Regions from separate parts of the Homo sapiens genome. Here regions 2 and 3 are each linked to region 1. Evidence: fine-mapped expression QTL. A gene starts in region 1. Each other region holds a variant in brackets. All regions are shown on one strand. Distances are between the middles of the regions. Region 1 holds the start of LGSN (lengsin, lens protein with glutamine synthetase domain). Region 2 has its middle 64 kb from the start of PTP4A1. Region 3 has its middle 60 kb from the start of LGSN.

What was found. PIP is the estimated chance that this variant, and not a neighbour inherited with it, causes the effect. A credible set is the group of variants that fine-mapping cannot tell apart.
Region 2: its variant is the best candidate, but not a certain one, in a credible set for the expression of LGSN in whole blood (TOPMed, PIP 0.56).
Region 3: its variant is the best candidate, but not a certain one, in a credible set for the expression of LGSN in whole blood (TOPMed, PIP 0.64).

Annotation. Positions count from the first base shown.
Region 1 is chr6:63,314,009-63,324,871 of GRCh38, reverse strand. It overlaps LGSN (lengsin, lens protein with glutamine synthetase domain), which reads left to right and starts at 4,889. Exons shown (of 4, transcript NM_016571.3): 1 at 4,889-4,958. The coding sequence starts at 4,929.
Region 2 is chr6:63,503,307-63,514,169 of GRCh38, reverse strand. It overlaps a transcript of LGSN not described here. Among named protein-coding and RNA genes, the nearest start is that of PTP4A1, 64 kb to the left of the region's middle. RefSeq lists an enhancer at 9,353-9,492. The variant C/T (reference allele first, on the strand shown) is at 5,563.
Region 3 is chr6:63,374,589-63,385,451 of GRCh38, reverse strand. It overlaps a transcript of LGSN not described here. Among named protein-coding and RNA genes, the nearest start is that of LGSN, 60 kb to the right of the region's middle. The variant C/T (reference allele first, on the strand shown) is at 4,317.

The DNA of each region.
Region 1 (10,863 bases):
CCTCCCAGAGTGCTGGGATTACAGGCATGAGCCACCATGTGCAGCCTCCTGTTTTTTTTTTTTATGTAGGTGTTTATTGCTATCAACTTCCCTCTTAGCAGAGCTTTTGCTGTACCCCACACATTTTGGTATGTAGTTTTTCTATTTTCATTTGTTTCCAAAAAATTTTTTTTTATTTTCTTCTCAATTTCTTCATTGACCCAGTGACCATTCAGGAGCATGTTGTTTAATTTGCATGTATTTGTAGAGTTTCCAAAGTTCCTCTTGATGTTGATTTTTAGTTTTATTTAATTGGAGTCTGATAAAACACTTGATATAATTTTAATTTTTAAAAGTTTGTTTAGACTTGTTTTGTGTCCTAACATATAGTCTGTCCTGGAGAATATTCCATGTGCTCATGAAGACAATGTGTATTCTCAGTTGTTTTATAAAATTCATTTAATATCTTACACAATCACAGAACAGAGTTAAGAGAAACCTGAGATCATCTTGCCCTAAACCACATTTTGCACAAAAGGAAACTGTTATCAAGAAAACTATGTGATATGTCTTTAAAAAACAGTGTTTCCTATAGAACTCAAGTCTTTAATCTGCTGGTTGTTTCACTACAGCAGCAGTTCTGAAAGTATGGTTCAGGGACCCCTAGGGATTCCAAGAACCTTTGAGGAGACTGTGAGGTCAAAATTATTTTCACAGTAATGGTAAGACTCTATTTGCCTTTTCATTCTCATCTAGCATTAGTGTATAGTGAAGTTTTCCAGAGGTTGCATGACATGGGCTGTATCAAAAGAATAAATGCAAGCCGGAAGCGGTGGCTCACGCCTGTCATCCAGCACTTTGGGAGGCTGAGGCAGGTGGATCACCTGAGGTCAGGAGTTCCAGACCAGCCTGGCCAACATGGCGAAACCCTGTCTCTACTAAAAATACTAAAAGTTATCCAGGTGTGGTGGCGGGTGCCTGTAATCCCAGCTATCTGGGAGGCTGAGGCAGGAGAATTGCTTGAACCCGGGAGGCGGAGGTTGCAGTGAGCCCAGATCGCACCACTGCACTCCAGTCTGGGTGACAGAGCAGACTGTGTTTCAAAAAAAAAAAAAAAAAGAATGCAAAAACATACGAGATTCCAGTGGTTTTTCTCTTAAGCTAGACATTAGAGCAATTTGTGAAAATAAGAAATCAATTTTCTATAAAAAATGCTATTTATGTTAATATGTACAATGCCCATTATTATTATATTTTTAAATATGCTAATATTGATTAACATAACCTGTGTGTGTGTGTGTGTGTGTGTGTGTGTGTGTGTGTGTGTGTGTGTATATGAGGTTTTGGTGCTCTCAAGAATTTGTAGATATTATCACAATAAGTAGAATGATGCCATTAAAAGAAGGAAACAAGGACAACACCAGCTACCAATTTTTTAAAATTAATGGTGTTATAAAAATGTCTTCTGTGAATAGACAGTAGAGACTCAAAAGGGTGGAGTGGGATGAGTGATGAGAAATTACTTAACAGGTACAATGTATACTATTCCGGTGATGGCTACACTAAAAGCCAAGACTTCACCACTATGCACTATATTCATGTAACAAAACTGCACCTGGACTCCATAAATCTTACAAATAAAAAGAAATGTATTCTGTGGCACTCTCCTTCTAAAAATAGCTTGGGCTGTTTTGGAATAATTTTTAACTTATTATATGTGATTGCAAGCTCCTTATGTGCCTTGGAATTCAGAATTTCATGCTTCCACTTTCACAACTGACTTCATTTAACTTTATGAAGCTTGTGCTAAATATATAAATGCTTAAGGATATGTGAAAATCATTGAAAATGCTAAATTAAAATGATTTTAAACTAGTTTTAAATTGTATCAACTTTACAAAATAATTTTTTTCAGGGAGTTACGCTGTTTTCTACTCATTGCTTACTTAGGTTTATCGAAGGGGCAGATGAGAGGAGAAATTCCCTTTCTGAAACAAATGAAAAGGACACACAAAAATATTCTTCAGTTTCCCTGCCAATGTGTGTTTCCGCTCAGCCCTGAATTCACTGATTTTCTACCTGTCCTCACTCCAATATTTTTTAATCATCGGTTTTAAATCTTAATTCTGTAAACAGATCTACCATTTTCTTAGAAAATGAGGTATTTCTGGGAAGAACTGAAAAGAAATGGGGACTGGATTCATGAAAGGAACTTTTGGGGGCCTTTGTGAACAGGAGTTCTAGAACCACTAGGGAAGCTCAAATATTACTCCTTATAATTTTTGTATGATGTTATCTTCAATAAAGGGTGTCAATGTAGTCTTCCTGTTAGGTATGTCATAATTAGATGCATATAAAGGAGGAACAAACCCATGCAGCTTCTAGAACAACAACAAATCGGGAGAAAGGTAGGGTGGAAGTATCCTTCTGTCGTGGTTGTTATGTTCTTATGCTGACCTGAAACCATATTTTTGTGATTCATGAAGGTCATAAGAAAGATTATTTCCTTCACTGAACTTGGCTATTATTCTCACAAGTCAGTTATTCCCTTGGTCTCATTGGGCATGTTTTCACCCTATTTCCTTATCAGTTAGTGCTGGGAAGACAAGAACTTTGTATTTTATACACTGTACTGTAACATATAATATATGTAAACATGAAACAAAAACAGATTCATTGTGATTTCATTTTCTCCCACAGTGAAAGAATAGATTTAATCCTTTACCTAATTTGCATCCTTTGCTCTTCCAATCCTGTTCAATAATTCATCAGAAGGCAGTAACTTAGTGGTAAACAACATATTGTTTCCCCTTGTTGGTACTTAGTAAGCTTTAGCTTCTGCAATCTGTTCTCATGAAATGAATCCCATAATTCCTTTAATCATTTTAGTTACTCTTCTCTGGATCCATTCAATTAGATTACAACTTTTTGGCAGGAGAAGTACTTGAGTTGAACGGTCTTTCCATATGTTGTCTCAGAAGAGTGGTAAGAGAAAGACTTGTATCATTTACATTCATGGCTCAATGACTATATTCATTTTGACTAAGATAGCTTTCTGGATATAGTACAGATTGAACAAATGCTTGTGAATGAAAGTGTTTAATATGGACTTATTGACCATTTATTATTTTTCTAATCTATTTGTTAAGCCCTTTACTGACATTTGGTTTTTCCTTTGGAAAAACTGATTCTAAATAATGGTAATACTTTTAAAATATGTATCATGCTAATACCATAAATTAGGTTATACACCATATGTCCAACCAAGCTTTAGAACACTTTTTACAAAAATGGGCAAATCAAGGTTCAGGAAAGGATATTATAAAAAAATCATGGATACACATTGAGAAGAAGAGATTGTCAAAATAAGGTAAGGAAAAGAAGATGAAATGAATCAAATTGCATATTCAATAACAATAAAACTCCCAGGAGAAAATTTGGGTAAGTAGTACTATAAAGGAATGATTTTTTTAAAACATGTCCCAATATGTAACTGAACATGTAAACCAGCTTGGAGTTCTTTTCTTTGATATAGGAAAGGGAACATTTCTGAAACAAAAACGAAATTTTTCACAAAACATTTTTTTCCATAGCTCAATGGCACCTGTTTTGCATGGAGACAAGCACATGCAAGAAAAAGTTGTAAAAGTGGAAGCAAATGTGGTCTCAGAAGAGGATTGAGAAAAACTTAGGTAAGGCTCTGGTACAAGACATTGTGGGAATTAAACACCCTACTAGAGATCTGGGGGAAAGCACCAAGAGCAAGTCAAATACTAGGATAGGAGATAGAATCCCTTTTCTTGGGGAGGTTCAAGAGTCCAAAACAGCCATATTCAGGATGCAGTTTCAGGCTGGCATCAGCATCAGAACTAGGTCCAAATTCAAGATCTGGTTGTAGATCAGGCTACACAGAGCAGAAGCTTTAGAGTCAGTCATGGAACAAGTACCAATGGAATGGAAATAGGAATAGTTAATCACTGTCTTTAGGAAATGGGGCTTTTGAAATGGGCCAAGAGAGTCAGGCAGGATTGAGTGGTTGTAAGTATTGGCTTGGTCTTCCTCAGGCCCAGAAGACCAGGAAGAAGTGATTAGCCATGGAGACTATACACTTCCACATGGAAAATGCTTAGAGAGAATTTGGTTTGGTTCAGAAGAAACTGCATATCCTCCTTCATCAACAATACTTGAAGTTGAGTTGATAGCAGCAGAAGTGTGATTTCAAACCCCCTTTACTAGTGAAGAGAAAGCATTCCCTATTTCCTCTACTGAGTTAGGATTGTTTATGGGACCATATGGGGCAGCCTGTAGATGATTCTGTGTTCATTGTGCACAGTGGGGATGGTCTGGGATTTGTCACAGACTGACATCGGAGAATTGGAAAAGCTAAAGAAAGATATTTCAGTTTTATAATGAAGGTCCAGAATTAATTTGGAGGCCAGAGGGACCTAGAAAAGAAAATAAAAATGAGAATTACAAATGAGTGGATCTTTGCCATTGGTAAAAATCTGGGTCACTTATAGCTGTATTTTTCCATCTGTGCTTTTGTCTGTGGGCTTTGATAGCATAGTCGTCTAATAAGTGTTTCATCATCTGAATCTGACAATAGATATCATTCCAGAATACAATTGTTATGTAACAAAAATTCTGTATGTTGGAGAAAAAAATCAACCAACACAATTTTAAGCTTTGTATGTCTTTTGTTTGCAGGGAGTCAGGCGTAAACAAGCATTTGTCATTCGATTCTTCTAGTGCATTTCCAGCATACTGTGCCTTGGGCATGACACATCAGAATCTGATGTTTATCTTTTATTACCTGCCAGACCCCTCTGGAAAAGCCTCTATGGAATTCATCATCTGCAGTCTTTGTTGTAGGTACACATATAAATACATGTTGAATGCATTTGTTGAGGATATTGTGGTTTCTAACGCTGAACTTAAAAAGTGTTGAGATGAATAATGAAGAGGACCTTCTGCAGGAGGTATGAAGCTAATCATTAAAATGTTTTTAACCAAAATATTGACAGTAAATCTTTTTAAAAAATGTCAATTATTTGAATGCCAGTAAGAATAAGGGCAGCATAATTATACTTGTTATATGTCCACTCAGGAGAAGTTTATGAAGAATTGCCCTTCTGTACTACACAGTGAATTTATAAAGATAATAAAAACTAAACAATTCAAAATATTCATCTAGGAAAGCTCATTTGGTTTGAATAATCATTTAAGTTCAATAGGCACTGAGTTTCAGAAGCATAAGTATGCTATAAAAAAATTTATTTCTATTTTGGTTGTTATTGAGAGAATAATCTTTGTTTTTCTCAAAGCTTTGGCCTCTTTCTAATAAATATGCTTTGAGATTAAATGACTAAAGGTGGAAACCTGTTTTCAAATTATATTTGAAATGCACAGCATGAATAATGATAGCCACTTATAGGGTCTAGCATATATTAAAATAATCAGTTGTCAACATATAACATTTCTCCTCACTTCTTAATGTGTGTGTACCCAACCTTCACTCTTGTATTTCTGACTGACCATTCTGAAAGACTGAAGTGCAGACTTGGAGGCAAGCTGTGGTAAAATTTGGGAGGATGTGAGTTATCTTTAGTAGGTTAAGAAAATATAATGCAAGAAGCATACCTACTATGTGAAGAGTGCAGTGGAAGACCAGTGCATTATGTATGAAATAGTGGCATATAGAGAACAAACCTGGTCCCCACTTTTGCATGTAGTGGAGAAGATAGCTAACATCTAAGAATGGGTTCACTGATCTGTATAGTGAATACAAGCAGTTGTTTTGAAATAGAGTCAAGAACAAATGCACTTTCCCTAAGGGAAACTGGGCAAGGCTATGTGAAGAAGGCACTCCCTGAGGAGGAGCTGTGGCTTATCCTGTACTGTCATGTCACTGTTGTAGGCATCAAATGGTGGACATGTTTATGTGATTATAATGAATTTAGCTAAAAGTAAATTCATAGCTGCAAAGGAAGGCTTATAGAAAGAAAGTAAAGGTAATTAGCATATACATCATTAGCTTTTTGGGATTTTGATTTCTAACTATGTAACTTCTTGGACTAGTTTTACTTACTACTTCTGATCCCATGGCAGAACTCTGCTTTCTTCCCCAGCTCCCACAATTTTAGTCCAGGATTCCAGGTGATACAGCTCCCATGAAAGTCCTTAAAAGCCATGCCCTCCTCAAGACCAGTCTAGACCAAATGTTGATTGTTTACTCTTAGGAGAGCAGAAAAATGAACAATATGATTTTTAAACTGCACAATTCTCACAGCAAGAGACATTCTCTGTCTTTTGAGGAAAAGTTCCCTCAAAGTTGGAATAGAGCATTGTATTTACTAGATGTAATAAAGGTGAATCTTGGCTGGCCACTTGACCCAACTCCACTGAATAAGCTCTTTTATACTCTCCTGTATAGGTTCGCATTCTCAGGAAGTGAAAGAATATGGAAGGAGGGAGAGAGATGACATGTGACATTCCTTTTCCAGCTAACAGATGTTTGGAAAAGGACAAGACTGTGTTTCATGCTAGATGCTCTGGTAATGTGAGCAAGAGCAGCATGAAGTTAACTACAAAACACAGCAGCTGAACAAAAGCTCAGTGGATTCCGAAGGGCAGATTGTGTATATGGAGAAAATCCCTCAGAATACTTACTTCCCCAGTCTGAAGAAATTCTTTGTCAGAATATTCAGTAAAATGAACAGTTATTAATCTTAGGTTTGGTACTCCCCTAAAGAATATTTTACTGAGATTCTCTATTTAAAACAATGCTGTAAAGTCATGCATTCAGCTACATTCTTAGCAGTGGCAGACAAAAAATAGATTGAAAACACATTCTTACTTCTTAAAGTAGATCCTATGGGTGTATGAAATTGTGAAATTGAGTGAAAGAGTGGCATATCATAACAATTAAAATCTGTTTATCAAGAACCTTGTGTGTGGTGCTGAGCTGGGTAATATGTCAAGTGAGTAAGATCTGTTCCCCACCCTGCAGATATTTATAACTCAATACAGAGAACACTGACACAGGTAGACACAGTTCTGACGTTTCCATATCACAGAAGGAATGAATGCCATCTGGGGTGAAGTCAGAGACTCATCCTGCTCTGCAGCCTGTATCTGTTGGGGGCATGAAGTGCAGCCCCATGGGAGGCTCTACCTGACCTTCTAGAGGCTTGCTTCAAGAGGCTAGAGATTTACCTACCCCAGCTTTCCCTGCTTTATGCTATTGTCTGTGTGACTCTAGAGACCTCCTGATTCTTGTTTTGTATTTTCCATTTGTTTTGTCTCTGAGAATTCAGAAGATTTGTCTTCTGAAGATTTCAAGGTTTATAGTTCATTTTATAATTATTTACCTCAAACTTACCTACTTCCAGTGTATCAACTAGCTCTCCATTTAAGAATTCTCAGTGGAGAGACAAGACAAAAATTAGATTTGAGTTTCAAGGGCAGTGGATTAAGCTCGCACTTCCTGAAATGAGAATGCCTGCATTTTAATCTTGGCTCTGCTACTTACTAGCTGTGTGACATGGGGCAAAGTATTGGACTTCTCTGTACCTCACTGGGACATTAATAGTGCCTACAGGAAGGGATTTTGTGGAGATTAAATGAGTTAATACATGTAAAGTGCTTAGAACTGTGCTTACAATATAGTGAGAACTCATTAAAAAGGAGTCATTCATTACATATACTTTATTATGTTATGTTGACCTCTAATAGCTCTCCTGTTTTCATTTTTACAGCCTTAAAGAGTTTTACATGTTTTCCTTTACATGATAGAATTTGTTTGCTTATGATAGTAATGATAACAATTATATATAATATACCTTTTTACATAAACATATATCCATCCACTTCTAGCCTATTAAGGCTTTCCTAAGGCACAATGACTAGAACTATTTTTAGCAATCAGTTACAGGCATATCATAATTTTTTTAAAGGGTAGAGCACCTTCCCCTCTCACATTTAAAGTATTTTTATATTCATATTTGCAGTATTTTTATATGCTGCAGCAGCCCATTAGCTGATATCTTCACGAACAGTTCCATAACATTCTTGGATCTTTTTTCATACTATATTACAGAGCCCATTATCATAAATATATATTATATATACATGAATATTTAAATTTTTTCTACATGTCTTTTTACCTTTGAAATATTTTTGTTGCTTTTCTGCTCACCCACAAAGCCTTCACAAATTATTTTTGTCCTGTCTACATGGATAAATATATTTTTAGCCATACGATCTTAATTTCTCTAAAAAATATGGAGAATTCTTCTTTGATTTAATTATGAACATACTAAATAAAACAAAACTTTTTGCTTCCTTTATTATTTTAGTGTTCTTTATTATTTAGCTTCATATTATCAAAATCACATGGTGTTAGACCTTTGTAAAATTATGTTTTTCCTTCTCTGAAAATGTTTGGTTAGGTATATTTTTCTTGTGTAGAACTTCTATTGTAGATTTTGCATAACTTGCCCACAGAGGTGAGATTTGTTTATGGGTTGATACACACTGTTGACTATTAGCCAATTTGTTAGAAATAAAAACGAGACTCATAGCTTTTCATATGGGAGCAGCTATATCATTTACATTCTGATACTTCTTTCACACAGAGCTCTCAGTAATGATCGTTGCTCTATCATTCTCGGTCACATATGAATGTTCCACCTAATCTGCCAACTTAGGTCTAGGTTATTATCTTGTAAAAGTGGTGAGGATTAAACAGTTAGAAAGTGAAAATTTGATTGTAGAAGTGGAAATTAACCAGGTTGACCCTGACATTTGGCTAATCTCCCCACAAATGTGCTTGGAGATGAGAAACTCAACACTTTGACAAATAACCCATTCCATTTTGGGCTTATTATATTAAGTAAAATTCTGATTCATTGCAAATTCCAAGCAATTTATCTGGATTTTCCTTCTGTGCTTTGTTTTACTTCAAAAGATAGAGATACTATTGAACTCTCACTTGAAATGTGGAGTTTTTTTTTTTTTTAAGACCTGGATTTCCTTAGTTTTCTGTATTTTGTCACATATAAAGTTTGTAAGTAGCATGAAGAGATGAAATAAGAGTTGTAAACCACACATATTTGAATTCTGCTATGTTCTAGCTATGAAGCCAGTCAAGTTGCTGCATTTATCAGATCCTCAGTTGCCTCACTGAAATATATATCTATATATTTATATAGATATATAGAGAGTGAGAGCATGCATACACACACACACACACACACACACACACACACACACAGAGAGAGAGAGAGAGAACATTTTAGCTATTCTTCAGAAAAGCAAGAGAAATAATGTTTTCTCAGTATCTTAAGTGGGGTAATCATAACCGTGGTGAAAAGGCCTGATATTGAGGGTAACTACTGTGAAAAAACCCTAAAGAAAAGGTAAAATTTATAGAGTAAAGCTACAGAGGCATTGTAGAGCAGGCTTTCACTAGCACAAGCCCATCTAAGTAAAGAAGCACAGGTCTAAGCCCTTCTAGAGAAAACTTTGAAGAAGTCCATGCCATATTTTATCTAGGAAAGCTGTTTTGACTGAATCATCCTAGTGGGTTACCATCAGGTCTTGCTGACATCCAAAGAAGTCTCATTTAGAATCTTTTATAAAGGAGAAGTCTGAGTCAAATGTCCTTTCTGGCCTTATACTTCAACATGGTAGGTCTTGGTTATAATTAATTAATTAGAAATTATTTACTCAATTACTACTTTATGCTAGGCAATATGTTAGGCACAAGGATACATCTAAATGCCACCTTCTAAGAATCTTCAGTCTTTGACATGTTCTTCTTGTCATCCTTTCCTGACTTGACTTCTTATCCCATCTGTCTTGGATTCCATATCCCATTATTTTAGCATCTTCCTTGCCCAAATCCTCAACTTATTTTTGTCATTGTCCTTCTGAGTTTGTGACCTCATGAAACCTTAAACCATGGTGTCTTCACATTTCCAGCTGAGCTTTGCTAGAGAAAATAATTACCTGTGCAGATTGGTGTCACTTTAAACTTTAAAACCTCCAATTCTTTCTGGGCCCTTGATATTTTTCTTTCTTGAGTCGGCTCTTTCTCAGTTTCCACTATAACTATGTGAAACAATTTCCATTCTCCTTAAGCCTTTAGTCTTCCATATTCCTACTCTATCTGAACACTTCTTACCCTAAAGGGAAAATTGGAAGCATCACAACCCTCCACCTTTTCTTATCCAGAATGGATAAGATAGATTAAGGTTTAAAATCAGTTTTAGATTGAAATTCTGCCATTTATTGGGTGAAAATCTTCCTGAGGCTCAGTTATCTCATCTGAAAGGCACTCATGAAATGTTAACAATTCTTTGCTTTCTGTCTTTCTCCTCCTAATAGTCCTCTTCCTCCTCATTTTTTCTCTTCCTTCCTTGTCTCAGTCAGTTTGGGCTAATATAACAAATTGCCGTAGGTTGGCTGGCTTAAATTACAAACATTTATTTCTCACAGTTCTGGAGGCTGTAAGTCCAAGTTAAAGCCTCTGGCAGATCTAGCATGTAGTGAGGCCTCACTTTCTGGCTGGTAGATGTACATATTCTTGTATCCTATATGGTGGAGAGCAGAGACAGAGGAAGTAAGCACTCTTCTATATTTTTTTCCCCATAAGGGCACTAATTGTATCTTGAAGGCTGTAGCCTCATGACCTAATCACCTCTCGAAGGCTCTACCTCCTAACATCATCGCATTAGGTGTTAGGGTTTACTGTATGGTTTGTGGGGGACACAAACATGCCGTTCTTAACTCTGCTCTTTCTTCTAACGATCTACCCCTTTTCCTTCCTCTGATAGAGGAAAATGTATTAAAGTTAATTCCTTTATTTCAATCCCAGATTCC
Region 2 (10,863 bases), 190 kb before region 1:
TTTCTACTTATTTGTAGTGTGCCTTTGGTTCTTTGCAAACATTGAGCAAGAACAGGACCAGGGACCAAATGATGTGGGCAGAAGAACACAGATTATTAGTCTTTAACAGATTTTTCGCTAATTATTTTATATATTATTCATTTGTATTTATATAAGTAATATCTTAATACATATTCCTTATGAAAAATTCTAAAGCCACATTGGAATAAAGGCAAAATGTCTGTTTTCCAGTGTTTTTTTTTTTTTTTTTTTTTTTTTTGAGATGAAGTCTCGCTCTGTTGCCCAGGCTGGAGTGCAATGGTAGGATCTCAGCTCACGGACACCTCTGCCTCCTAGGTTTAAGCAATTCTCCTGCCTCAGCCCCGCGAGCAGCTGGGATTACAGGCACCCGCCTCCACACCCAGCTAATTTTTGTATTTTTAGTAGAGACGGGGTTTCACCATCTTGGTCAGGCTGGTCTCCAATTCCTGACCTCAGATGATCCACCTGCCTTGGCCTCTCAAAGTGCTGGGATTACAGGTGTGAGCTACCACACCTGGCCAATTGCTTTTCTAGTTGAATGTGCAAAAACAACATTAAGAACCACTACAAATTCCTCACACATAATTTTAAAACTAGAGTATGAAAAGTACTCCTAATTTATTATTACTTTTCCAAGAAGTGGCCAGAGAATTAATTCCAGGAAAAGGGGACTACGGCAAACATTGTAATTGGGTAACCATTATCCATGGCTCCCCTTATAAAAAAAAAAATCCCCATTTTATCTGGGGCAGCAGTGTGTGTGGCTCCATAACACTTTGTTGGATAATTACCTTCCTAGACTCCTTTGCTTTTGAGAAGACCAGTGTGGCACACAATCCTGCCAATGAGATTTCATGGCAATCTGCATAGGAGGCTTCTGGAGGTTTTTAAATCTTTGCAAAAGGGACAATAATAAGAAAAAAGTGTCCTTTACCATTTCTTTCTCGTTTGAAAGTAGATGAGGTATTTAGAACTATGACAGCTATGGAACAATGAAGTGAAAAGAATAAAGACAAAAGTCAGCACGTTAAGGACCCAGAGAAGAAAGAACCTGGACTCTTGGTTATATTTCAGAGGAGATGGACTAGGGATTGCCTCCCTCTAAATTTCTCTGGGCAAACACTGAATGTCCCTATGGTTTGGCCACTTTTAATTTCCTATTCTGTCAGTTGCTGCTGAAAGCATTCCCAATACAAATACGTATCTGTCTTGTTCTCTGCTTTAGTACGGAGAACAGTGCCCAACGTGTAATAAGTGATCAAAGAATGTTTGCTGAAAGAATAGAGTGAGTGGATTTTAGATCAGATTCTAAGCATCATACCAAAACTTGTGGGTAGTAAAGTTGTTGTATTTATTTTACACTGAATTTTTAGTTTGAGTATAATTTCCCTGAAACTATTTGCCTTACACTGCTTTTTCCATACTAACAAAATCTCAGATATGTTTATCCTTCAACATGTTATCTGAGGGAAGATAGACCCCTCTGCAGTCTCATAAAAGCCTATCTTAATTGATCTAAGCTAATCATGGTAGTCTCATACCCTTTGCACAATGAATGACTTATGCCTGGGTATGAGAGGCAACTGTGGCCAACGGAGCTAATTCTGTGGGGACTTCAGGAAAAATATTCCCCATTAAATAAAAAGTGGGGCATGGAAGATAATGATTCTAGGTCTTCATGTGATGTCAAGATATGCCCCAGCCACTTTGCAGCAATGAAGGATAAGGCTTGAGGACTAAGCCACCACGCAAAGAATGAGAGCATGAGGCTGGCTCCATGGCTCATGCCTGTAATCCCAGCACTTTGGGAGGCCGAGGCAGGTAGATCACTTAAGGCCAGGAGTTCCAGACCAGCCTGGTCAACATGGCAAAACCCTGCCTCTAATAAAAATACAAAAACTAGCTGGCAGCTGTGGCACATGCCTGTAATCCCAGCTACTCGGGAGGCTGAGGCAGGAGAATCGCTTGAACCCAGGAGGCAGAGGTTGCGGTGAGCCGAGATCACACCACTGCACTCCAGCCTGGGCAACAGAGCAAGACTTTGTCTCAAAAAGAAAAAAAAAAAGAACATGGAGCGAAGGAAAGAACTTGAGTCCTTAATGACGACTGAGCCAGTCCAGGAGCAGAACTACCTCCATACTTCTTGCCATATAGTAAAATAAGTATCCTTACAGTTTCACCACTTTTAATTTTTTCAATCTGCATCTGCTTGCTAGGGAATTATTAATTTTTTTAATTACTTGCAGCCAAGAACATCATAAATAGTATGTGGATTTAAACTGTCTTTCAAATGTGTACACATAAGTAGTAACAAATCCCAATGTGTATTTTTCATCATCTTCAGATTTGGAGAGTCATTTTCTCAGTAAGAAGCATAAGAAAAATTACACAGTAAAAATATTTTCCAATTTTGATTCTGAGGGACAATTCAAAACCATAAAATAATAAGCTCTGTTTCAGAAAAAATTTTAATACGTTAGATTTGGGGGTCTATAATCCAAAACATCTAGGTAAACTATAAACTGTCAAAATTTTAAAAATGCCCAGGTAATGATTTCAAATTCTCAAAGCTACATTTTAAGAATTCACTTGAGGCTGGGTGCGGTGGCTCATGCCTGTAATCCCAGCACTTTGGGAGGCCAAGGTGGGTGGATCACCTGAGGTCAGGAGTTCAAGACCAGCCTAACCAGCATGGTGAAACCCTGTCTCTACTAATGAAGTACAAAAATTAGCTGGGCGTGGTGGTGCATGCCTGTAATCCCAGCTACTCCGGAGGCTGAGGCAGAAGAATCGCTTGAACATAGGAGGCGGAGGTTTCAGTGAGCTGAGATTGCACCACTGCACTTCAGCCTGGGCTACAAGAGTGAAACTCCATCTCAAAAAAAAAAAAAAAAAAAAAAAAGAAATCTATTTACTTGTATAAGCTTGACCTAGAGTAGGGATCAGGATTTGTAGGGCTTCCATTGGGCTCATCTTATCATCTTATAGATATAGCGTGTTGCAGGAAGAGGTGGGAATGTAGAACCAGGCACTTGTGTTAAGTGCCCTGATTGTTACTCCTAGAGTAATAGGTGCCATGAGCATAGCACCATTGATCTCCTTATTCTACCAAGCACATTTTATTGCCATCATTAGCTTATCTGTCTAGCTGCTCCTCTAAATAATTCGCATCTTGACCGGGAGCGGTGGCTCATGCCTGTAATTCCAGCACTTTGAGAGGCAGAGGCAGGATGATCACCTGAGGTCAAGAGTTTAAGACCAGCCCTGGCCAACATAGTGAAATCCTGTCTCCACTGAAAATACAAAAATTAGCCAGGTATGGTGACATGCGCCTGTTGTCCCAGCTACTCAGGAGGCTGAGGCAGGAGAATCACTTGAATCCAGGAGGCAGAGGTTACAGTGAGCCGAGATTGTGTCACTGCACTCCAGCCTGGGTGACAGAGCGAGACTCTGTCTCAACAAAAAAAAAAAAAAAAAAAAAAAAAAAATTCGCTTCTTGAAGGAAGAGAACATGTTTTGCTTATTTCTGTATTCCTGACACTGAAGATGGTGCCTGGCACATAATAGATATTGAACGAAAGTGGGGAGAAGAGATTAACTCTGGGGGAATAGAATAAGGGGAAAAAAATCTAAATATTAAATACTGAGGAGTTATGACTTGAAGTGTTTAAAAAACTAAAAAAAAAAAAAAAAAAAGAAAGGTAGTCAAACCATAGAAAGATTAAGTGGTAACTAGAACTTACAAGGGTTAGTTTAACTTTTATGTTTTTTTTCCTTCTCCCTGGGAAAGTACCTTTGGGATCATGTGGTGTTTGTGCAAATCGCTTGGGTCTACACAGCACAGAGTGGGGCTAAAGTGCAGATGAGGTGGAACTAAGAAACAGCCTGTCCAAACAAGCATGATTTAGAGCAGTTGCCTCATATACTGGACCACTTTTTTAGTACTGAAGGCGGCAATGACATACTTTATGGCAGTCACAAGCTGCTTTTAGTATGTTAAATGAATGAATACAGGCAGTTCTTCTGGAAACTCAAGGGTTTGTTGTTGTTTCTTTCTATCTTTAAAAAATTCAAAAATAAACTTGCCCCAATATTAATTTTAACCGAAGCTTTATTAGATGGTTACATTTATAAATTTACACTTCATTTGTGATAGTCCTTAATTATAATTATCACATACTCATGTTTTGAAAAGTTAGTGAAACTTTCCCTAAAGAGCAGGGCTTTCTGTTCTACCTCCATACAAGGCACTATCAGTGTGGGAGGAAGGGCAAAACACTGTGCTAAACCTGGCCCCATCCCAGGTCTGCGACTAACCCGGGGCCTTGGCCAAGTCAGCTAGCCTATCTACTGTTTAGTTTCTGCATTTGTAAAACAGAGGCATGTGTGAAGACAATCTCTTATGATTTCCCCTAGCTCTAAAATTTTACTGTTATAACGTATTAAATGCCTATGTTTATAGGAACTGAAACGGTTAAGGTTTAATATTTACTCTATAAGCTAGGTTTATCACTTCATCCTTTATAACGAAATTTTCATCTTACACATTATTATATCATACATTTAAGAAACTATGGCAGCTATATAAAATAATACAAAAACTAAAAGGTATAATTAATATTTGATATATTTATTTTAATGTCGATTTCTACAAATATACAACATGCGCACACCTAATTGAGATTATACTGCATAGAGAGCTTTGTATCCTCGATTTCATTGAATTTTGTATTGTGAACATTTTCCCATTTTATTAAAAAAAATCCTTAAAAAATAGTATTTTTGGCCAGGCGTGGTGGCTCATGCCTGTAATCCTAGCACTTTGAGAGGCCAAGGCAGGCGGATCACCTGAGGTCAGGAGTTCGAGACCAGCCTGGCCAACATGGTGAAACCCTGTCTCTACTAAAACTGCAAAAATTAGCCAGAAGTGGTGGTGTGCGCCTGTAATCCCAGCTACTCAGGAGGCTGAACCTCAAGAATCGCTTGAACCTAGGGGGTGGAGGTTGCAGTGAGCTGAGATCGTGCCAGTGTACTCCAGCCTGGGCAACAGAGCGAGACTGACTCAAAAAAAAAAAGAAAATTTTTTTCCTTTATTACAAAATTTTATATTGTTAAATATAATATGAATACAAATAAACTATATAAATAATTATTATAAGGTGAACACCTGTAACTATCACCTCACTCAGTCACCCCAGAAATACTCTTTTTTTTTTTTTTTTCTTTTTTGAGACAGAGTTTTGCTCTTGTTGCCCAGGCTGGAGTGCAATGGCCCAATCTCGGCTCACTGCAACCTCCACCTCCTGGGTTCAAGCGATTCTCCTGCCTCAGCCTCCTGAGTAGCTGGGATTACAGGCATGCACCACCACGCCCGCCTAATTTTTTTGTTTTTTTAGTAGAGGCAGGATTTCGCCAAGTTGGTCAGGCTGGTCTCGAACTCCTGACCTCACATGATCCACCTGCCTCGGCCTCCCAAAATGCTGGGATTATAGGCGTGAGCCACCGTGCCCAGCCAGAAATACTCTTATAACATAACCATCT[C/T]CCTCCCTACTGAAGTGAATTACCCTAATGACTTTTAATCATTTATTTTTCTTTATAGTTTTGCTATGGTGTGTGCATCCCTATACATTATCATTTAGTGTTTCCTAAGAGTATAATTTTTAATGTATGTTTATTATTCTACTATATAAAGATACATAAATTCATACAACTTTTTAGCTTATTTTTTGGTGGTTTTAAAAAATTTTATTTTTTGGCTAGGTATCTGTTTACATAATGCAAAATTTTAAATGTTCAAAAGGGAAGGCAATCAAAAGTCTTACTACTACTTTGTTCTTCAGCCATCTGGCTATCTCTATAACCAGTTTTTAGGAAGTTGTTTTTGAGGAAAATGAGCCTAAGAATGGTATTGATATTTTTTCAGCTTTAATGTCCTAAACTAACCTCCTAAGTAGGTACAAAAATATAATTCTTAGAAAAGCATTCAAAAAGTTGATTTTTCTTTTATATGAAGTTGGCATAATTTCTGGAGTAAGATATGTGATTTTACTCTTGAACTAGTTAAATGTGTAACATTGAACAGTTAACCATGAATTGGTTGTGAAATAACCAAAGAAGGAAAATTAGGATCCAACTAGGTATAAATAGTGTGGTGGTATTTTACTTTGCTTGACTATGGAGCTGAGAGACCCAAGTTGCTTTTTTTTGTCTCTTGGGCATGATGGAAAACTCAACAGTTTCTTATGTTTTTGCTCTAGTAGATCAATAATGTCATGAAGATAACATGTTATACAAAAATGCATAATTCAGTTTGCATTAATGACAGAACTACCATCAACCTGTCTGAACAGTATACCATTTTTATGAAGCAGGGTTCTTTGGCTGTAAGAAACAAAAACAGGCTCTGCTTAACCTAAATAAAGGAAATTTACTGGGATAATTCAGGTACTCATTGTTTGGCAGAAAGGATGAAGAATCAGGCTTTGAAATGAACAGAGCCAATACAACTTATGAGGTCCAGGAACTGCTGATAACAAGAATGGTCTCATATGAAAACTGGCTTTGGATATTTTACTGGATTCTAATAGAAACTGTTCCTGATTGTGGAACACCAGGTGACTATGCAACTAGATCTACTCATCAGGATGTTATCAGATACAGTAAGTGATAAGTTTGGATGGGTGTATCATTAGACTTATGATATAAATGAAACATATGCATCCAGCTTGACCATATTCAAAAGGTATGAATGAATTATATGCACATGTATCTCAAACTTTCAGGTCATCTGTCTCTGTAGCACCAATAACCCTCCCTTAACTCACACTTGGGCCTCATGAAGGGAGGGGAGTAAGTGCCCCCTTCTGACTAAGTGATGGAATAAGAAATAACTTGGCCCAGTTTACACATGAATTCTCACAGTACATTAGCGATAGTGGAAAGTAAATTGCCACCACATTATAGTTCCACTCAAGGACGGAGGGACAGTTGTGAAAAGAAATCCTCTCTCCAGGCAGGCAATGTTATGAGTAGTGCGAATGGTCATTCACTTGGTATGGAGAGAGAAATGTACTTTGTATAGATACATGGGGACCCTGGGGAAGGTGGGAATGTCTTGGCTGGTTTGTCGGGGTAAGGCATCCTCATATTGGCTCTCCCATCTTCCCTTCCTCATTCTTCTACTCCCTCACTCCTGCTTCCCTGGGATTGCAGGGATACTAGTAAGATAGTGTCACGTGAACTTTTGTCTCAGGCTCTGTTTTGAGGGAAATCAACTTCTCTGAGATGTTCAGTGAGATATTTGTGGGCAAACCAGACTCCCTAACCAAATTACACATGCTTTACCAGAGCAACAATATATGTTCAGTGGTAGCTCAAGCTGTTTTTATGACCATTTTTCTTATTTTGGGAAGAAAATGAAGAGAAGCTTGTTCAAATTATTTTTGATAACTTTCATGTATGCCCGTTCTCTTAAAATCCTTCTACTAGGTTAACCATTTATAAAATAACTGGGTTAGCAATCAGAGATAGAAACCTGTTTGTGAACAGAATGAATAAGGAAATTGTGTCATCAACAAAACAAGAAGAGCTGGGCACAGTGGCTCATGCCTGTAATCCCAGCACTTTGGGAGGCCAAGGAGGGTGGATCACGAGGTCAGGAGTTCGAGACCAGCCTGGCCAACACAGTGAAACCTCGTCTCTGCTAAAAACACAAAAAATTAGCCGGGCGTGGTGGTGGGCACCTGTAATCCCAGCTACTTGGGAGGCTGAGGCAGGAGAATCACTTGAACCTGGGAGGTGGAGGTTGCAGAGATCCGAGATCCCACCATTGCACTCCAGCCTGGGTGACAGTGCGAGACTTGTCTCAAACAACAACAACAACAACAACAACAACACCACCACCACCAACAACAACAAGAAGAACTTATCTCCTTTCCATGAGAAAAATCAATATGTAATCAAAATTTTTATTTTATTTAAAACTACCCAAAAGATTGAATTTGACTTTTTCTAGATACCATTCACTATGTCAAAAACCTAAGCAAAGAATGTAAATAACTTTCAAAGTATTTCTTCCACTCTACTCCTGATGAGTCTAAAGTTAAACAACTGAAAACTGCCTCCCTCAGTTTAACATTTGGCACATCTCTTTTTAAGGACTTCGAAGATACCCTGTGTCCCATTACAAATAAAATATGACGGCTGGGCGCAGTGGCTCATGCCTGTAATCCCAGCACTTTGGGAGGATGAGGTGGACGGTCAGGAGTTTGAGACCAGACTGGCCACTATGGTGAAACCCTGTCTTGACTAAAAATACAAAAATTAGCCGGGCGTGGTGGTGCACACCTATAGTCCCAGCTACTTGGGAGGTTGAGGCAGAAGAATTGCTTGAACTCGGAAGGAAGAGGTTGCAGTGAGCCGAGACTGTGCCATTGCACTTTGGCCTGGGCGACAGAGCGAAACAAAAAACAAAACAAAACAAAACAAAACAAAACAAAAAAGAATGCCAGAATTTCTTTCTTTCTTTCTTTCTTTCTTTCTTTCTTTCTTTCTTTCTTTCTTTCTTTCTTTCTTTCTTTCTTTTTTTTTTTTTTTGACAGATTCTTGCTCTGTCCTGCTCTTGGCTCACTGCAACCTCCACCTCCTGGGTTCAAGAAATTTTCCTGCCTCATCCTCCCGAGTAGCTGGGACTACAGGTATGTGCCGCCACACCTGGCTAATTTTTGTATTTTTAGTAGAGACGGGGTTTCACTATGTTGACCAGGCTGGCCTTGAACTCCTGACCTCAAGGTGATCCACCCACCTCAGCCTCCCAAAGTGCTGGGATTACAGATGTGAGACACTACGCCCGGCTTTACTTTAGAATTTCTTAACTAAAGAGATGAGGAAAAGCATATAATTCCTTGGCTTCACTTTATAATGCTTGATAGAAAATGGGGGTGGATGAGGAGATATCAATAACGTTAAAAAAAAAAAAAGCAAGTTACTAACAGGAATGAGGAAGCAGAGGGAAGGTCAAAATGTAGGATGAGGTGGGCTTTCTAGCCAATATAGGACAATAAAGAAGAAAAGGAATGCCATGGTCATGGTGATAACCTTACCAGTTCCTGGTGTAGATGAGAAATGAAGCATAGCTAATCTACTAATTTTAGGTGACACCATCATGCCTTTCACTATGACTCAAAAGAATGTGTGACAAACCACTTTCTCATCAGGCCAGCTGATGGTATTGCCACTCAGAAATGGGGAGAAAATTCTTAAAGAACCACTAAGAGCTTTTCACTACTCTGAACTCTCAGCTTGAATAAAATCCACTTAGTCCTTTCTGTATTTCAGTGACTGCAATTATCAAGCATTGATAAGGAGCTTCTTGGGTTTTCAGAATGGTCATAAAAAATGATTTTCAGCTGAGTGTGGTGGCTCACACCTGTAATCCCAGCACTTTGGGACACCGAGGTGGGTGGATCACATGAGGACAGGAATTTGAGATCAGCCTCAGCAACGTGGCAAAACCCTGTCTCTATTAAAAATTCAAAAAATTAGACGGGCATGGTGGTGCACGCCTGTAATCCCAGCTACTCGGGAGGCTGAGGCACAAGAATCACTTGAGGCTGGGTGCAGTGGCTCACGCCTGTAATCCCAGCACTTTGGGAGGCCAAGGCTGGTGGATCACTAGGTCAGGAGTTCGAGACCAGCCTGGCTAACACTGTGAAATCCTGTCTCTACTAAAATACAAAAAATTAGCTGGGCGTGGTGGTGGGCACCTGTAGTCTCAGTTACTCGGGAGGCTGAGGCAGGAGAATGGTGTGAACGTGGGAGGCGGAGCTTGCAGTGAGCCGAGATTGCACCACTGCACTCCAGCCTGGGCAACAGAGCGAGACTCTGTCTCAAAAAAAAAAAAAAAGAATCGCTTGAACCAGGGAGGAAGAGGCTTCAGTGAGCCGAGATCGCCACTGCACTCCAGCCTGAGTGACAAGAACAAAACTCTGTTTCAAAAAAAAAGATTTTTATTTTATTAAATATGGGTTGAAAATAGGTGAGGTATTTATAAAAAAAATGGTTAAGGATGGTGTATTGAGCATCTTTAATGTGTGACTGTTCAGCATTCATTTCTCTTTCCTAATAACATCACATTTCTTTTAGAGGGAATTATAATTTTATTATTATTGTTGTTACTATTTGCATATAAATTTTTATATATTTGTCATTGTTGTTGTTGTTTTGGTTTTTTTGAGACAGGGTCTCACTCTGGTTGTCCAGGCTGGAGTGCAGTGGGGTGATCTTGGCTCACTGCAGCCTTGACCCCTCAGGCTCTGGTGATTCTCCCACCTCAGCCTCCTGAGTAGCTGAGACTAGAGGCAGGTGCCACTGTCCCCGGCTAATTTTTTGTATTTTTAGTAGAGGCGGGGTTTCACCATGTTGCCCAGGCTGGTCTCAAACTCCTGGGCTCAAGCAATCCACCAGCCTCGCCCTCCCAGAGTGCTGGGATTACAGGCATGAGCCGCTGTGCCTGGCCTTGTTACCATTTTGGATTCAGCCTGGTGGACTTTTACTCAGCAGACCTATACTTTCTTAGCCCAAGTCTGAATATATGGTTGAAACCAGGCCAATCAGACACCTACTCTCTGGAATTTAAATCTTGGGTAGAGGATTAAAGAGAGGATTAATCTATTCCGGGGCGAGTCCTGGATTTTGTCAACGTGAAGCCATTCTTGTGATCTCCAGATCCTGGACCACTGCGAATACCTTGGATCAGCACATTTCAAAGTCTGGTTCTCTAGCCTTACTTCCAGGCGATGAAGTCTGATATATTTCAGTAAGTTTCCTTTCCATAAATGAACT
Region 3 (10,863 bases), 61 kb before region 1:
GAAAACCACAGCTTAAAGAAATCAGGGAAACTTATTTTCATATAAGAGGACATTTGAAGACAGAGTGATCTAAGTTTAGTTAATTCAGTGGCTCAGCAGCATCATTAAGAAATAAGTTTTTGTTTTATGTATATTTTGGTAGATCTGCCATACTCAACATGGAAACCAGTTCTCAGATGGATTCTCTGTACAGGTGTAAGATGGCTAAAGCAATTCCCATCTTCATAATCAGATATCAAAATGTCCAGTAACAGAAAGGGTGCTTCCTTCCTTGTGTCATTATTTTAAAATTCATTTACATGTCATTTTTAAATGACTATATTAGATTTCTAGGGCTGCCATAACCAAATACCACAGGCTGAGCTTCCTAAAGAACAGAAATTTATTTTCTCATAGTCTGCAGGCTCGAAGTTCAACACCAAGATTCACAGGTTTGTTTTTTCTGAGGTCATCCTCCTTGGCTTACAGCTGGCCACATTCTCTGTGTCCCCACATAGTCTTTCCTCTGTTTGCTTATCCCTGGTGTCTTTTCAAGTGTCCATAGTTCCTCTCAAAATGACATCAGTCAGATTGGATTAGGGACTTCCCATAAAACCTCATTTAATTTTAGTAACCTCTTTATAGACATTATCTCAGCTGGGTTCAGTGGCTCATGCCTGTAATCCCAGCACTTTGGGAGGCTGAGGCGGGATCACCTGAGGTCAGGAGTTTGAGACCAGCTAGCTTGACCAACATGGTGAAACCCTGTCTCTACTAAAAATACAAAATTAGCCATGTGTAGTAGTGCATACCTGTAAACCCAGCTACTTGGGAGGCTGAGGCAGGAGAATTGCTTGAACCTGGGAGGTGGAGGTTGTAGTGAGCCGAGCTTGTGCCATTGCACTCCAGCCTGGGCAACAAGAGCAAAACTCCATCACACACACACACACACACACACACACACACACACACACACACACACAAGGTGTTATTTCCAAAGGCATTCATATTCTAAGGTACTGGGAGTTAGAGCTTCAACGTATTAATTCAACACAATTCTGCTCATAACGGTAGTGGAAAACCTTTCCATAAGTTTCTCCCATATCATCTCCCCTCATGTCTCATTGTGCAGAATTAGGTCATGTGATCATGCTTAAACCAATCCTTGGAAAAACAACTGGGGTCATAATTATTGGTATAGGCTTATCAAGATTTACTCTTGGAACTGAAAATGGGGTAACCCCTCCTTGGTTCTCGTGGCAGGAAGAGAGGTAGACATCAAATGAAATCAGGGCCCTTCAAGCATGGAAAAAACTGGGGAGGACTTCTAGGAAGGCAGCCAACTGGTGTGCACAATCATCATAGGTTTGTGGTTTATGGGTGATTTGGGTTGGTCTAAACGTTTAGAAGCAGAGGAGACTGTAAATACACTAAGGAGTGGTGAAATCTAGGGAACTGAAAGCAGACATCTAGGATCCTTTTAGAATGTCAAGTTAGAGAAGTGGTTAGCAGAGAAGCTGGTATGTGGGAGACAATATTAATGAATAACCAGAGATAAAATGAGTTTGAAAGGGTGGCTCAATAAATAGTTCTACAAATTCTGACTTTGCAGTGCAGGCAGTATACTGTATCCTCTATGAGTTATTTACCCTCTCTGATCTTTATTTGTAAAATGGGAATGATAAAGTCAATTATTTCACAGATTTGGAGGATTAAATAAGACAACTCAGTGAAAAAGTTATTAAAATATAAGGTAATACATGGATATTAGAAACTATTATAGTGTATAGTTAATGGCATTGAATCTAGTATATGACTTGTCTGTGTCCAGCACAATCTGAGAAAATTAGTTTAGTAAAGACTTAGAATTTCTATAATCTGTTTTGTGTCTTATTTTTATTTATGAGGGCATAATTTGCACTATGATCATCAAGTAGTTACCTGGATTAAAAAAACGCCCTGTTCAAAAGGTTTATCTCTAAGTTTTGGTCTATTCTGTTCTGGTGTATTCTTATCCCTGTGTGAATATGCTGTTGATCCCCTGGGTCTGTGTATGTGCATGCAAGAGTGTGTGTGTGTGTGTGTGTGTGTGTGTGTGTGTAAGTAATGGTTAAACAAGGTTTATGTGCTATTTTGTGTGGGTATGAACCTATGAGTTGGTTGACTTCCCTTCTGTCATTGAGAAAGTTTTAAAAAAAAAATCCACTCTTGGTTGGATGTGGTGGCTCATACCTGTAATCCCAGTACTTTGGGAGGCTGAGGAAGGAGAATTGCTTGAGCTCAGAAATTTGAGACCAGCCTGGGCAACATAGCTATACCCTATCTCTATAAAAACAAACAAACAAACAAACAAACAAATAAATCTGCTCTTTTAAAGGTGCTTAAGGCTTTCCTTCTTAACATGAACAAAAGCAGGAAAGGTTAAGCAGTCTTTTGAATTTGAGATACATATGCCTGTAGCTATTTAATTAATTAGAATGTGGGTCTTACATAAACTTAGAAAGATCATTGAGCTAGATAATCCCTTTTGTCTTTTTCATGGCTAATAATGATGGTAACAGTATTTACTTTTACCCATTCTTGAACTGTTGTAACTTAACAGTATGTGACAGCAGTAATTCTTATTATATATGTATATGTTGTACAGTTATATCTTAGCTTGGGTTTGCCAGGAAGCAGAGCTTGAGACAAAGTCTTGTTTTAAAACACTTTATTGGGAAGTATTGAGTCCAGAGATCAAAGGTGAGCCAAACAGAAGAGAGATGCAAAATGACAATGTATTATCAAGTATATATGTCTACAGGCAACTAGCTCCTCAATCACCCAGGCACATAAAATGTGTCTTAGGACTGTCCTTCTGAGACAGTGAGAAACCTGTATCTCTCAATGGTCAAATGATTGGCTTTACCCTCCTAGGTAACACATGCATGGGTGCAAAACATGCTTCTGTGTCATCTCACATAGTGTGGTCAACAGAGAACACCTGGGCAGAAGATGAGAGGCTCCTGGGGACTGGTCTGAGACAAGGTGCTGTAAAAGAAAACCTATATTAAAGTGGTTGGAAGTGCACAGACTGGTTGCTTCACCTGCAGCCAGAATGCAAGACAGGTGAGGTGAAAGTCTAAAAGGATGCATAAAGACATATTCAATGTACTGTATACATACACCAATAATTTTGGTTAACTAGGGTTTCACTGTTAAAATAAATATTATTACTAGTAAGTATTTATAGTGAAGATATATTTGAGTCTATATAAAAATGTAAGTTCTCTTCAATGTGGATGGCATTATCTATTTTAAAATGCTTGCTTATGAAATATAATACATTTTGTAGAGGAAATACAATATTCAAGGGTCCTGTTTTAAGCTTTGTTTCCTCTTGAAAGTGAGAAGCCTTAATGATTGAAGAAGAATAGCACTTGGTTGATTGCTTTTATGTTTAAGGTACCAGGAATTTAATTTGTGTGCTAGTAGGTTCAGCATGAGTGTGAAAATGTGATATAGTGTTTAAGAGTTGTCATGTAGTCAGGAAACATTTTCTTTGGAATTAAAAAAACAATATTATCCCTTAGTGACTTTTTGTTGACATTCAACTAATGACAGAGAGACATTTCTGTTTCCTTAGAGGGCACTATGCTTTGAGCTATAATGCCATAATCTGGGGGTAATTTCTGAGCTCCATTGCTTGCTGTGTCTGGAGCTGGACAAGATGAAATGGCAATATCAAGCAGCCACCTGCATTTTATTATAACTTCTTATTGTAATTATAGTTATCATGGCCATTTTGGTCCAACTTAGTTTTTCCAGATGAATGGGTTAATTTGCAAACTTGTGGTGATGAGGTAAGTTGTGATATTCATGGTCTTTCAGAAACAATAATTTTAAATGGTATTAACCAGTTGCACTGAGAAGGCTTTCTTACTGGATAATTTTTATGAAGGAAATGCTAGCCTGTTTGATATTACTTTTCATAAGAAGTTATTTTCAAGAAGGGTGTGGTCTATAGAAGAAGGCAGTTTTTCTTAGTACTACTCTTTTCTTTCAGTACCAAGGTCAAGCATTTCATGATGAAATTTAAGAGCGGTTGTTAAACTTTGAGCAGAGGAAGAAATTTCATCAACCAACTACTTTCTTCCTGTGGATGCCCTGATTTGAACTATTTCCTTATGAAACTGGCATACAGATTGCAGAAAAGTTGAAATTAATTGACATCCATATGTTTTATTTGGCATCATAAGCTGCTGTCTCTCAAATTTTTTTCTTCTTTCTTTGAGACAGGGTCTCACTCTGTCACCCAGGCTGGAGCACAGTGGCACAATTATGACTCACTGCAGCCT[C/T]GACCTCCTGGGCTTAGGTGATTCTCCCACCTCAGTCTCCTGAGTAGCTGAGACTACAGGTGTGCACCACTATGCCTGGCTAATTTTTGTGTATTTTGTTTTTTAGAGATGAGGTTTTGCCGTGTTGCCCAGGCTGATCTCAAACTCCTGGGCTCAAGTGATCTGCCTGCCTTGGCCTCTCAAAGTGCTGGGATTACAGGCCTGAGCCACCACGCCTGGCCCATCACTTTTAACAGGTGTTTGTTTGTCTCTTAACTGAAAAAAAATTTCCTGAACTTTCTTTCTGCAAATTGAGATCAAATTCCAAATAGGGTTTCCATATTTTCATAAAGTTTCTGAAATATTCAAACCTGTATTAAATACAAAGCAAAAACATGCATATAAAAGGCAAATACCTTTTTGGCATCTAGAATGAGGATAAAGAGCACAAAAATTTAGGAAAAAAAGAAAAGAGCTATTTTTTTATTTTGATGCCACAATGAACAAATTTTATCCTGTTGGCTAACCTGCAACATGGCAATAAAAATGCTCCTTCCGTAACTTCTCTATGAAGGCTGAAAAAAAAATGTTTTCAGAAAGTGAATGTTATCAAGTCAATCACATAAGACTCCACCTGTCAAACAGCAGACTTAAGTTGGTGATGCTTATGACGCTGTCTACCAAAAAGGAGCAGCTTGAACATAAAAATAGGTCTGTGCCCTAGGGAGGAATGCTGTTTCCTTTCCTGTGATATGCGTCTGCAGACTCATCTCCATCAAGAATACCAATTCAAATTGATGTTATTGCTTTCTATTCTGTATTTTTTAGATGTCTGCCAAGTACCTACCAATGTGTAAAGTGGCACAGAAATTCAACAGGAGGAAGACAAGGTCTCTGGTTTTTTGAAAACTTTTTTTGAGAGAGATGTGTTGAAACAGACACATTTAAATAATGCAAAACAAAACCCTGTAAATGACTAAAAGCCATAGTAGATCTTTAGCTAGAAAATAATTTTATGAGGCCGGGCGTGGTGGCTCATGCCTGTAATCCTAGCACTTTGGGAGGCCAAGGCGGTGGATCACCTGAGGTCAGGAGTTCGAGACCAGCCTGGCCAACATAGTGAAACCCAGTCTCTACTAAAAATACAAAAAATTAGCTGGGTGTAGTGGCAGGCGCCTGTAATCCCAGATACTTGGGAGGCTGAGGCAGGAAAATTGTTTGAACTCGGGAGGCAGAGGTTGCAGTGAGCCAAGATTGCACCATTACACTCCAGCCTGGGCAACAAGACCAAGACTCCATCGCAAAAAAAAAGAAAAAAATTATATGGCAGATTGCTTCTACATTAACTACAGCAACATTTTACAAGCCTGCAAAATTTTTGTAAAAAAACAAAAACAACTAAAACTAGCTTCATGGATCCTACTCCAGAGAGTTTGATTAAGTAAGTTGAATGCATGAACTAAGACTCTGTATTTTTAACAAGCTTCTGAGGTGCTTCTGCTAATCACTGAGTTATTGACCACTGGAGCAAGAGGAGCTAAAGAGGACCTGCTGTAGTCTGCTTGATACACACACATCATACAAATATTAATCACTGAGAAAAATTGAAAAGGCAATTTTATTGGCAATACAGATAAGGAAAGAAACAACATCAACTGCACTTCCACCTTTATCCTATTTTTCCTCCCAGGTGCAAGTCATCCCTGAGGAAGTAGTGACCAGCTGTGGATGCTACGCTGAGGCCCTTCTTTAAGAGTGATCTGATGGCACTGGATGTCTGCTGAGGCTTGTGTCTAGAAGGAATGAAAGGATGTGCCAACAACAGCAGTTGTCTCCTCGTTTTCAAAGCTCAGGCCTCATGGTATCCCCTTCTCTTGGTTCTGTTTACTAAAACATATCAGTGCCTGACTATGCCTGAATGATCCATCTTCCTTAAGGCTGCTACACCATAACTAGGAGCTTTAAAAAAAAGGGGGGGGCATTTACTCTCTGAGGCACTCAAAAAAGCACATGCTTTTAATTGAGGGATGGGGGTGACAATGGATCATTCTGTTGATTTTAACTATCTCATATTTGTTAACAGCATCATTTCCATGGATAGCTTTCTGAAAGACTGCCTATCCACTTAGAGGTGAGGAGAAGTAATAGGGGAGGAAACCCTGCCGAGCTGCAAAAAGTTCTAAATCCAGTCCTTTAATTATCTTGCTTAAAATTCTTTATTGGCTCTTTGATACCCTCAGAATAAAGCAAACTGCTTAAACATGACTTACAAAGTAATTGCTATAGTTTGAATATTGTCCCCCAAATCACATGTTGAAATTGATTCCTAGTGTCAGAGGCGGGGACTGTGAGAGGTGTTGGGGTCATGGGGCATATCTCTCATGAATAGATTAATGCTCTGTCAGCATGGGGTGGGGTTGTGTGAGTTCTCACTCTTATTAGTTCCCAAAGAGTTGGTTATTCAAAAAGAGCCTGGCATCTCCCTCCTTTTTGTCTCTTGCCTCCTCTCTCACGTGTGATCTCTGTGCATGTGCCTTTCCGTTGCCTTCCCCATGAGTGGAAGTGGCCTGAAGCCAATGCTGGTGCCATGCTTCCTGTACAGTCTGCAGAACTATGAGCCAAATAAACCTATTTTCTTTATAAATTACTCAGCCTCAGATATTCCTTCATAGCAACACAAATAGAGTAAGACAGCCATTAATATCATGCCTATACCTGAGACAGTGGTATGCATTAAACATTACATCTGCCCCTACTTTTCTAGGTCATTATAATTTTGGGGGTGGGGTGGGAGAAGCATATGACTAGTGCTAACCAATAGGCTGTGGGTAGAAGTGATGTGTGTCACTTCTAGACTGAAGTATATAAAAGTCATTCAGATGTCTGTTCCCCTGCTGTGGTGATCAAGAAAGCCAGATGTTTCTATTGTTGCGGATATGAGATGTTGTCTCCATTACTCTAGATCCCTAAGCGTTTGTGTTCATTAGATGCTGCAGCTAAACTGAAATTCTTTCAGTTCCTTGGTCATGCTTACCTGTCATCCTTTGCAAATACTTTTCTCTTTCTAGATTGCTTTTCCATCTCTTCTTCAAGTGTCTCTTTTTCTTTTTTTTTTTTTTTTTCAAAAATCTGGTTTAATCTTCTACCTAGACCACTAAAACCTTTCTCCATATCAGCAATAAGGCTGTTTTTCTTTCTTGTTATTCATCCTTTTTCTTTTCTTTTTTTTTTTTTTTTTTTTTTGAGATGGAGTCTCTCTCTGTCGCCCAGGCTGGAGTGCAATGGCACGATCTCGGCTCACTGCGACCTCCACCTCCCGGGTTCAAGCGATTCTCCTGCCTCAGCCTCCTGAGTAGCTGGGACTAGAGGCGCACACCACCACGCCCTGATAATTTTTTGTATTTTTGGTAGAGATGGGGTTTCATCATGTTGGCCAGGCTGGTCTCAAACTCCTGACCTTAAGTGATCCTCCTGCCTCGGCTTCCCAAAGTGCTGGGATTACAGGTGTGAGCCACCGTGCCTGGCCCAAGTGTCTAACTCTTTTCTTCTCTTCTTGGTCAGAACATCACTTTCTCTGGGAAGCTTATTTTGATCTTCTAGGTTTACGTTAGGTGTTCTTTCTATAGAATTATCCTGCACTTATCACACCATGAGGTAATTAGTTTCCTGCTTCTTTATCCTTGCACTTCTTTGAAGGATTGAATGAACCAACTCCCCAGGGCTGAGTTTGGAGAGCTGGGGCAAAAGGTGGAGTGAGGGAGGCAGCATGGCAGCATCTGGAAAGCTGTGGAAAATTTGCCTTCAGGGCATGCAGTTGATGGTTACCAACCCCCATTCTATTGCCTGGTTGATTGTTAGACCTCTTACACCTTCTGGGTTGCTCTCTGCCTATTGGCTTGCCATAATTCATAAAGGATACGTTAGCGTCTATTGCCAAAGATTAAAAAAGCCAGCTGGTTTCAGAATACTAAGTGGCAAATGTTTACTATAAGTCAGATGAAGACAGGCTGTTCCCTTAGCAATATTTTGCTCTAAGTAAGAGGAAAATTAGTCTAAAATTAATTTAAGCTATAAATTATAATGTCAAAAAGAATCAGTGCATATCTATCTACTTCTTTTTGAGGTATCATTTGCACCTAAAGTAATTTTCTTAATATGGGAGCAGTCTGTTTAGATTAGAAAAGCACAAGCAAGGCACTTCAAATACTATATTTTTCTTTTGTTCTGCTTTGTTCTGGGTTTGGAAGCCTAGGAACACTCAGCTGAATTGTGTTTGGACAAGAATAGTGGCCACTTGTGAATGTAGACCATTGTTAAAATGCACTTTGTATGTTCTAGTAAAAGTTATTCACCCCAAAATCTTGTTTTAGCTAGCAAACTGACTCAATCTGAAAGTAGATGAGTTTTAAAAAGTCAAATAAAATACAATTTCCTATTTCCTTTTTTCATTTTAAGCCTATTCTCTGATGATTCCTTTCTCATATTTAAAATTCTACTGGGCTCAGGTAAGAGGCAGTCAGATAATTAAAAAAGAAGTTAAAGAGAAATGCAATAGGTGAATGTTTTCTAGAAGCTCAGAAAAGGCTGAGTGTATCCATTGCCATTTGTTTGAGTCTATTAGGGAGCTATAGTGCAGAATATTGAATCTGAGCATAGTGATTTTTCTAGATGTCAGCATCAGTAGACAGAGGGCTTGCTCTTCATCAAGGCAATCTTTACCCTTTGTAAGCTTGGCTCTGAATAAATAGAAAGTATTGATTAAGAAAAGTGAGGAAAGGGTATAATTTTGATGTTTCTTAGGTTTTAGATAGTACTCCTGGTGTTTATTATCTGCATTGCTCTCTGCTGTGAGCCCAGGGTGTTTCTTCAGAAACGTTCTGTGTTCTGCCCTTAATAAGCTTTTGGGTTAAGTAAAAAAGAAATAGAAAGCTTTTTCTCTGCCTTTGAAGAGTGTAGGAATGGTTAGAGAGACAAAACACAGAAAATGTAAGCGCAATTAGCAAGCATCGGGGGAACATGGGCAAAATAATCTGGTATGAAGTAAGGTCTGTGGAGTAAAGAATCATATATCGTGGAGAGAGCATAGCAGTGTGTTAGAACGGGTTTGGACTGCTTGGGTTTGATATCATTCAGTACTATTATATTTAATTTGTGACATTAAGAAAATTACTTAATCCCTAGGCAAAATAAAGATAATACAACATTCACTTCATTTGGTTCTAAGGACCAAACAAGATAATATGTAGAAAGTGATTATCATGATACCTACAACATAGTATATGCTCAAAAAACATTAGCAATTATTATCAATATCATAGGCAATATTTTTGATTAGGGAATTATCTCACTTAAAGGAAGTAATTTTCTACTCACTTCCTAACATGCTATCTTTCTCTCTTGTTTTTCTTATCTCATTTCCAAACTCAGCATTATCTTGACCCTTTAAAAAGTTTCTTAAAGTTGAGAAATAATAAAACCTATTATTAAAAATAATGTACCAGCCAAAGGCAAACTGCCTTAAATGCATTACTCTCTAATCTCTCCAACAACTAATAAAGTAGATGGTGAGTACAGACGAATATATACATATCCACATAAATAAGTGTTTTCATATTTTGCTTCATATATCAACCTAGGGAATCTGAATAAAAAATGTTTCCATTTATGATCCAGCTTTTCTTGCAATTTCAGTGCAAACTAGTAGTAATATTTGCCAAGAAAGATCATAATTGCTATATAATAATATAAATATAAATATATAGTAATAATAGCTAACACTTATACAATTGTTGTCAAGCACTCTTCTAATATATACATATATGTATGTGTAAGAATTAATTTAATACAATTACAGAAAGTCAAATTGATTATGAGGACCACCAATAATGTATTCTTTTGGCCACTCTATACTGCTTTTTATCAGCTCTGGATATATTTAACCCAATTTTAAAATTCTGGAATTCCTTAATTTCTAGAATTTGTATCTCTCAGTCAATGGTTAAAAAAGAAAATGATTAAAAAACAAAAACGGAATTAATTCTTGATAACATGTTTTCTTATTGCCCCGGAAAATCAACAATGACATCAATAACAATAGAGTCTTATAGCCTAAACAGAGTTCCCATGATAATTAGGAAACATTTGTGTCAAAATGTCAAACTGTCTTCCCAAGATCAGGTTTTCCTAACATGTTTATTATCAGCAACTTTTTTTTTTCTCTTTTCCAGTCACAATTTCCTTTTATTACAAGACTGTACTTGCACAGCAATATTTCCTTAAGCAAGAGATGGAGATGTTCAGGAGTAGCACATGTAATACCTGAGCTAGGTGTAGGTTTTGTTATCAGGGATACTGTGGAAGACAATAACGGAAAGGGGCCTCATGCCAAGGATGCAAGCAGCCTCTAGAAGCTGGGGAAGACAAGAAAAACCATTTTACTTTCCAGCCTCCCTGTGGATCCATTTTGAACTGACTTCCAAAACCATAAGACAACACTTTTGTCTTGTTTTAAGCCATTACATTTGTGTTAATTTGTTACAGTGGCAGTAGTAAACTAATGTTGATACTA